2 linked regions of the Homo sapiens genome follow. The protein of the gene in region 1 purifies or fractionates together with the protein of each later gene. This does not show direct contact. Each region holds a gene or a part of one and is shown on either strand. Other genes may lie near its edges.

What was found.
Region 2: the proteins of GASK1B (region 1) and EXD3 purify together in Homo sapiens (affinity purification with mass spectrometry; one large-scale study listed by BioGRID and IntAct). This does not show direct contact.

What each region holds. Positions count from the first base shown.
Region 1 is NC_000004.12:158,127,864-158,131,683, reverse strand, and holds part of GASK1B (Golgi-associated kinase 1B), read left to right. Parts: intron 1-671; coding exon 672-898; intron 899-3,820.
Region 2 is NC_000009.12:137,413,085-137,416,904, reverse strand, and holds part of EXD3 (exonuclease mut-7 homolog), read left to right. Parts: intron 1-3,820. UniProt on the Homo sapiens protein: Possesses 3'-5' exoribonuclease activity. Required for 3'-end trimming of AGO1-bound miRNAs.

The sequences.
Region 1 (3,820 bases):
ACAGTTCTTCTTTTTCTAATTAATCTGGTTACCCTCTTCTATAGGGTGGTATCCTTAACTCCCATAATAAACTTCAGTAGGCCCATTTTGTTCATATGTTTAGAATCTAGCTGTGGCCTCCATTTAGATAGTGCTTTTAGGTTTTATGATTTGGTCTCACATCTTTTCAATAGATTTCTTCTATGTGATTTCAAGTTAGCTTACTGTAATACTGAAGTCCAGATAGGCTAGGGGATGCAATAAACTTTTTGTGGCAATGAAGTAACTCCAATTTCCCATAAGCCACCTGAGGGAGAAAACAAGACAGAGCCTTCCAGACACATAGAAGTACAATGGTGTTTCTTCTGCTGTGCGTGGAGTCAGAGATTGTGCTGGCCATGTGTCTGTATGTGATGTCAGTGGGAACTTTGAATATTTAGGGTGGAGATGCCTAACTTGGATAATCTGACTTTGGATCTATTAGCAGAAGCTGGAAATGCTTATAACTATGACTGAGTCAGAAGGATATGAACCTTGGACTTGTTCTGACAGTTGCCTTTAATTAAATGAGCCTGGCCCTCTTAGATTCTGGCAAGTCAGCTATTCAGAAAGCACTGATCTTTGAAAATCTTGTAACTTTCCCAAGTTTTGTTTTCACTCAGCATCTTGGATTTTGTGTTTTCCATTTACAGATTTATAATCGCTTAGATACAAATTGCTGTGGATTCAGACCTCGCAAGGAAGATGCCTGTGTACAGAATGGATTGAGGCCAAAATGTGATGACCAAGGTTCTGCGGCTCTAGCACACATTATCCAGCGAAAGCATGACCCAAGGCATTTGGTTTTTATAGACAACAAGGGTTTCTTTGACAGGAGTGAAGATAACTTAAACTTCAAATTGTTAGAAGGCATCAAAGAGTAAGTTTTATAGTAACATCTGCAGGACATCACATTTATGTTAGATAAGTAGCAAGGTTCTGAGAAAACTCACATCTTACATCTGATCATTTTAACCCTTGAAAATAATTGTGAATGTGGAATCTGGGAATGGAGACCCAAGAAAGGAAACAAACCCAAGAAGAACAGAACCAGAGTGCAGCCATAGCGCCTCTATCAACAACCAATACCGCCTACAAAGTGCATGCTACATTTCACATTCATGATGTTGCTTGGTTCTCATTGTGAAAATCCATGTGGGTTTTGTTGGAAGAATGCAGGGACCTCTGGCATAGGATTTGGCAGAGCAGGGATAAGCAGGTGGCAGAGGCTCCATTATTAGGCATAAGATAGGACATGGGAAGAACTAATAGATGTGCAAATATTGACATGGCAGAATGTCTAAATTCATAATGAACTCAAGTGACTTTTATGAATGCAGTGGAAAATGACAGCCAATCTGGTAAGTAAGGCATAGTCTCAGAGGAAAGCTGGCTGTAGAATTCAGCAGGTGGATTTTTCAGCATTTTGAAATCCTTCAAGGAGACATAGATTAAGGGGAAAAGTATCTAACACCTGAAAGAGAGGGCTTATGGAGGCTAGTTAGGGAAGAATTATTTATTTACTTAGGGTTGACCAAGAATTCAGGGAAGATCTCAAAGATCTGGGGACATCCGACAAGACTCAGAAAGAATGCTGAGTGGAGAGGGAACCAAAGAAGGAGTTCTGCAATGCAGAAGTTAAAACACAGTGGTTGCTCATGGCACACTTGATCATACATCTATTGGAAATAAAGGAAATTAGACATTTAGTAATGGCAAGAACCCAGCTATAAAGTGTGAGCTGTTCAACCCCAGCAGTGGAAATTGTGGCTAGATTTCAAGCTCCACTGCCTAGTGGGCAGAGCCACTCTCCATACTTCCCATCTTAGTCAGAAATCAGATTGACTAAGAGACTGCGGTAGGGTGGAGACCTAAAAATAGAGGGTTCTTTGGTAAAATAGGTAACCAGCTGTGTGAAGCTAGGTGACTGCTGGAAACCTCATGAGCAAGTCTCAAATTGAGGTTAGAACCCAAGTCTTCCAAATCCAAGTCCAGTATTTTTTTTTTCTGTAATAACTGTGGTGCTAATTCTGTAGTAACTGTGGTGTGCTCTGTTACTATTATTCTTGTTAATAATATTCTGGAGCATATTTCAATCATTCTTCCTAAACACTATTACTTACATGGTGTGGATTTTATGTACTTTAGCATTAAGAGCAATACTGTTGCTATGAGAGTTTTATGAGACATGATTTTATAAGTTTTTGCCGGGTCCTGCCCTGTTGACACTTGTTTCTCACATCTCTTTGTGGATTGAAGGCAGGTTATGTGGCAGGTTCTCTCTTTTAAGCTAAGGAAATTTTATGTATCGGAAAATTTACTTTCCTAAGACATCACTTACTAAGGTGATATCGCAGGGTCTTCTTGAATCCCTAAATTCCCTCTTAGAATTAGGAGTGCCTGAAGAATACAGTCCATCCATTTCATACATTCATGTAAATGTGAATATCTTTATTTCTTCTTTCAAAGAAGATTTACATTTAAATGCATTATGAGGAGTAATGGGTTTGAAGTTAAATCTTCTTTGAAAATATAATTCACACATTGAAAAGCAAAAATGAAGGCTTTTCTAACCCCCAATTTATGCACTGAATATTCCTACTATTATATCAATGTAGTGCAGAGACAGGTAATATTTTTGCTTTCCTTTATGAAAAGGATTAGCCACTAAAGAGATCTAATGGTTTTAACGATTTCATCTCATACATTCTGCCACAGTTAAATTAGTTGAAGGGCTATAGAATTGACAATTCATGGATTATTAACACTTCATAAAGCAAAAATGCTACTTAATACTAGAGCCCCTAAAGTTGAGGCCCTAAACTATATAGTAATGTCTTCAGGGAACTCAGAGCATCTTATAAACATTCTTTCATTCCGCACTTCCTCACACACATTAAGCAAGTCCGGCGCCGTGGCCTTTGTTCTTTCTGCAGCATCAGAACTGCTGGAGCACCTGATCCTTGGCTTTCGGGCACCCTCTGTGCCATCTCCATTGTGCTCCATTGAAATTTGGAAGAGGTGCTTAGAAGGCCTGAAATTTCTGGCAAAGTGTACTCTTTAAGCAAGTATATATGTTCTTACTATAGTTTTTGAGGTATAACTGAGTTTATTAGAAATGTACTCTTAAAACAATATTTTTACTGTGCTTTTATCAGCATTTTAGTGAAAGTTGAGAAATGTCAAATTGGGGATTTAGCAAAATATTACTTATGTTTTTGATCTAGAAATTTTGCTAAGTCCTTCAGATAATGTATATGCTGGACTCCTGGCTTTCTAAACGAAGAAAAGCAAGCACAATGCATTCTTTTAAGGTAATTCAGCAAAGACCCCTCTAAATTGGTCTTAGGTTTTCCAGAGAGACTTTCATTGTGGAACTAAAACTTTTCTCTGAAACTTGAGTTTTGCTGAATTTATTTGAAAACATCTTAACACTCTAGCTAAATAAAATGATCCTAAATCCTCAGAGCTCCAGGAGTATAATATGACTCAGAGACAATTCTTTCTTTAATTTGATGTTTTTGAATGAATCTTATCTCATTTTAGTACACACATTTTTTATTATTTCACATAAATTCAGTTGTGTAACTTCTATTCAGGCAGAATACTTTATTGAAGTTGTCATTATCAATTTGTCTCTCATATTTTCTTGCATAAAATCCCACCTTGACACATCTGAGGATACTGTTCTACTTGACAGATTAAAGGGGTTTCCACAGGTGAAATGAGCCTAAGACTAAGAAAAGTATTTCTGCCAATCTAATAGAATCCTTTCCAATTCCATGCCTTTGTTTGAGTGTAC
Region 2 (3,820 bases), on another chromosome or scaffold:
TCATCAGTCCCGAGCCCAGCTCAGGGAGGGCCTGCTCCCTTCTGCTCCAGGTGGGAGCGGCTCCTGCCCGGGGCGCCTCCAAGAGCACCCCTGCGAGCTCGCGACAGCCCCAGGCTAGGCTGCGGGACGGCCTACCGACCCTTGGTGTTGATCCTTGTGTCACGGGGAACCAGGTCCTGGAACCGCCTGGTGCCACCTCGGTGTGACCTGGATGTGTCCCGTCCCCATCCTCCTCAGAGGGTGGCCGCCTGGCGTGGCGCAGGATGATGCTCTGAGCCGGGTTGCCCAGCACGTGTTAGGGTCCTGGGTGGAGAGGACCTTTGGGAAGCAGCAGCCGGGCTGACGAGGGTCCGGATGCCTGCCCGGGGACCAGCGAGGTTCCGGGCGCCTGCCCGGGGGTCAGCTGGGCCGGCCGGATGTTTCTGGTGGAGACCTGGGAGGTGAGGCGGTGGGCTGCCGGCGGTCCCTCCCTGGCTGTGCAGAAGCTGCGGTGGAGTGTGAGCTGGACCTGGGGGTGCCCGGCCTGATGGGAAGGTGGCAGAGGCTGTGTGACATGGAGATAGGTCGTGAGGGCCCCAAGTCCGCCCCTTTGTCCCTGTGGGTCCCTCACTCTGGGAACCTCGGGCTGCTGAGGACTGAGACGTGCAGTGCCCTCCCCCTGGTGGAGCGGCCACCCAGCCAGCCACCGCAGAATTCTTGGCCCTCAGGCACTGCAGAAGAGCGAAAGCCCTGGCTGTGGGTCCCAGGTGTGGCTGGCAGTGGCCGGCGGCAGGCAGAGGCCCTGTCACCATGGGTGAGGTGTGGAGGTGCTAAGGCTAAGATCCCATCCTAGTTTTAACCTTCAAAAATATCATTCATGGTTTTTTCTTTGTTCATGAATACAAACCAGGGTGTATACATTGTGTAGTATTCAGAAAATACAAAACAGAAAGCACAGAGGCACCGTCGGCAGAGCAGCCAGGCCCTCACACGTGCATCTGCCTGGTTTTGAGAAGGGACCTTGCACCGTGCAGCGTGATCCCCTTAGGGCAACGCGACTTTATGCTGCTCTGTGAACCCTTTCCCATGCCATTAAGTATTTTTATAAAACATGGTTTTTAAATGCTGTTTATCATTCATCAGATTCTACCTTGTGTGATCAGAACTGGGGTCCTTGGGAAAGCCCACCCTTGATGGGGGACTGTTGGCCCCAGCCCCGTCTGTGATGGTGACCCCAACATGTGCTGTTGGCACCTCCCAGAAAGGGTTCCCCAGAGCCCATGGGCCACCTGACCCGTCCTTGCAGCTGTCCCATGGTACATCCATGTGTTGTGGGCAGTGAGCTGCAGGGAGGTGGGGTGCACAGAGAAGCTTGCCGCAGAGCTAAAACCAACACGGTGAACAGGGAAGGTGTCCTTCAAAACCGCAGCCTGGGCAGGAGCAGTGGCTCCTGCCTGTAATCCCAGCACTTTAGGAGACCGAGGCAGGCTGATCACCTGAGGTCAGGAATTCGAGACCAGCCTGGCGAACATGGAGAGACCCTGTCTCTACTAAAATTACAAAAATTAGCTGTGCATGCCTGTAATCCCAGCCACTCAGGAGGCTGAGGCAGGAAAACGGTTTGAACCCGGGAGGCGGAGGTTGCAGTCAGCTGAGATCGCCCCACTGCACTCCAGCCTGGGCAACAGAGCAAGACTCCATCTCAAAAAACAGAAAAAAAAAAAACAAACCTGTGACAGGCCCAGCGCAGTGGCTCACGCCTGTAATCCCAGCATTTTGAGAGGCCGAGGTGGGCGGATTGCTTGTGGTCAGGAGTTCAAGACCATCCTGGCCAACATGATGAAACCGCGTCTCTACTAAAAATACAAAAATTAGCTGGGCGTGGTGGCAGGCACCTGTAATCCCAGCTACTCGGGAGGCTGAGGCAGGAGAATCACTTGAACCCTGGAGGCAAAGCTTGCAGTGAGCCGAGATCGCCCCCCTGCACTCCAGCTTGGGCGACAAAGTGAGATTCCGTCTCAGCCTGGACAACAGAGCGAGACTCCATCTCAAAAACATAAAAACAAACATACAAAGAAACCCTGCGACCTACGTGGAGCCCACGGGGGCCAAACATGCCAGCACCCCCCTGGAGTGGCGGTGTGGGACCCCACACCTGTCACACCTGCTGGCCTCCTTCTCCATCTCCTGTGCAATATCCCTGGAAAGTTACTTTTTGTGTTTAAAATTGGTCATGTTAATTGTTAAGGAAAGGAACAATCCTTAAGTTAAATTGGTAAGTTTAAAAAAACGAAAGACAGACCGCAACAGGCGTTGGTGAGGCTGTGGAGAAATCAGAACCCTCGTGTGTTATCGATGCTAGCGTAAAATGGCACGTCCACTGTGGAAACAGTCTGGTAGTTCCTCAAAAAGCTAAACATAGAAACACCGAGACTCAGCAGCTCCAGTCCTAGGAATGTGTGTCCCCAGATCAGTGAAAACACACTCCACACAGAAACATGCACACAGCTGTTCACAGCAGCACTGTTTATAACAGCCAGACAAGGGGGTGCGGCCCGAATGTCTGCTGGACAAACAGCCCGTGGTCTGTGCACACAGTGGGGCAGGACTCAGCCACGGAAAGGCAGTTCCAGCACATGCTGCTGCAGGGATGAGTTTTGAAGACACCATGCCAAGTGAGGTCAGTCAGCCACAAGAGAACAGAACCTTGGCCGGGCGCGGTGGCTCACGCCTGTAATCCCAGCACTTTGGGAGGCCAAGGGAGGTGGATCACGAGGTCAGGAGATCGAGACCATCCTGGCTAACACACAGTGAAACCCCGTCTCTACTAAAAATACAAAAATTAGCCGGGCGTGGTGGCGGACGCCTGTAGTCCCAGCTACTCGGGAGGCTGAGGCAGGAGAATGGCGTAAACCCGGGAGGCAGAGCTTGCAGTGAGCCGAGATGGCACCACTGCACTCCAGCCTGAGCAACAGAGTGAGACTCCGTCTCAAAAAAAAAAAAAAAGAAAAAAAAAACAACAGAACCTGTGTGGTCTCCTTTATAGGAAATGCCCAAAATAGAAAGATTCACAGAGACACAAAATGGCCAGGGGCTGAGGAGGGGCAGAGGGAGTAATTGTTGATGGGCACATGGTTGGTTGTCTTTGGGGCAATGAAAATGTTCTGGGCTGAGGCAAGTGGATCACGTGAGGTCAGGAGTTCAAGACCAGCCTGGCCAAACATGGCAACACCCCGTCTCTACCAGAAATATAAAACTTAGCCGGGTGTGGTAGTGGGCGCCTGTAGTCCCAGCTACTCAGGAGACTTAGGCACAAGAATCACTTGAGCCAGGAGGCGGTTACAGTGAGCTGGGATCGCACCACTGCACTCCACCCTGGGTGACAGAGCGAGACCCTGTCTCAAAAAAAAAAAAAAAAAAAAGCTAGGCCAGGCGCGGTGGCTCATGCCTGTAATCCCAACACTTTGAGAGGCTGATGCGGGCAGATCACAAGGTCAGGAGATCAAGACCATCCTGGCTAACACGGTGAAACCCCGTCTCTACTAAAAATACAAAAAATTAGCCGGGCGTGGTGGCAGGCGCCTATAGTCCCAGCTACTCGGGAGGCTGAGGCAGGAGAATGGCGTGAACCCGGGAGGCGGAGCTTGCAGTGAGCCAAGATCACGCCACTGCACTCCAGCCTGGGCGACGGAGTGAGACTCCGTCTCAAAAAAAAAAGTTCTGGAGTTGGATAGTGGTGATGGTGACTCATGTATGTGAACATGTTGAAAACACCGAGTTGTAACTTTGAGGGTAAATTTTATGGTATGTGAATTATATCTCAAAGTTATAGAGCAGTTAC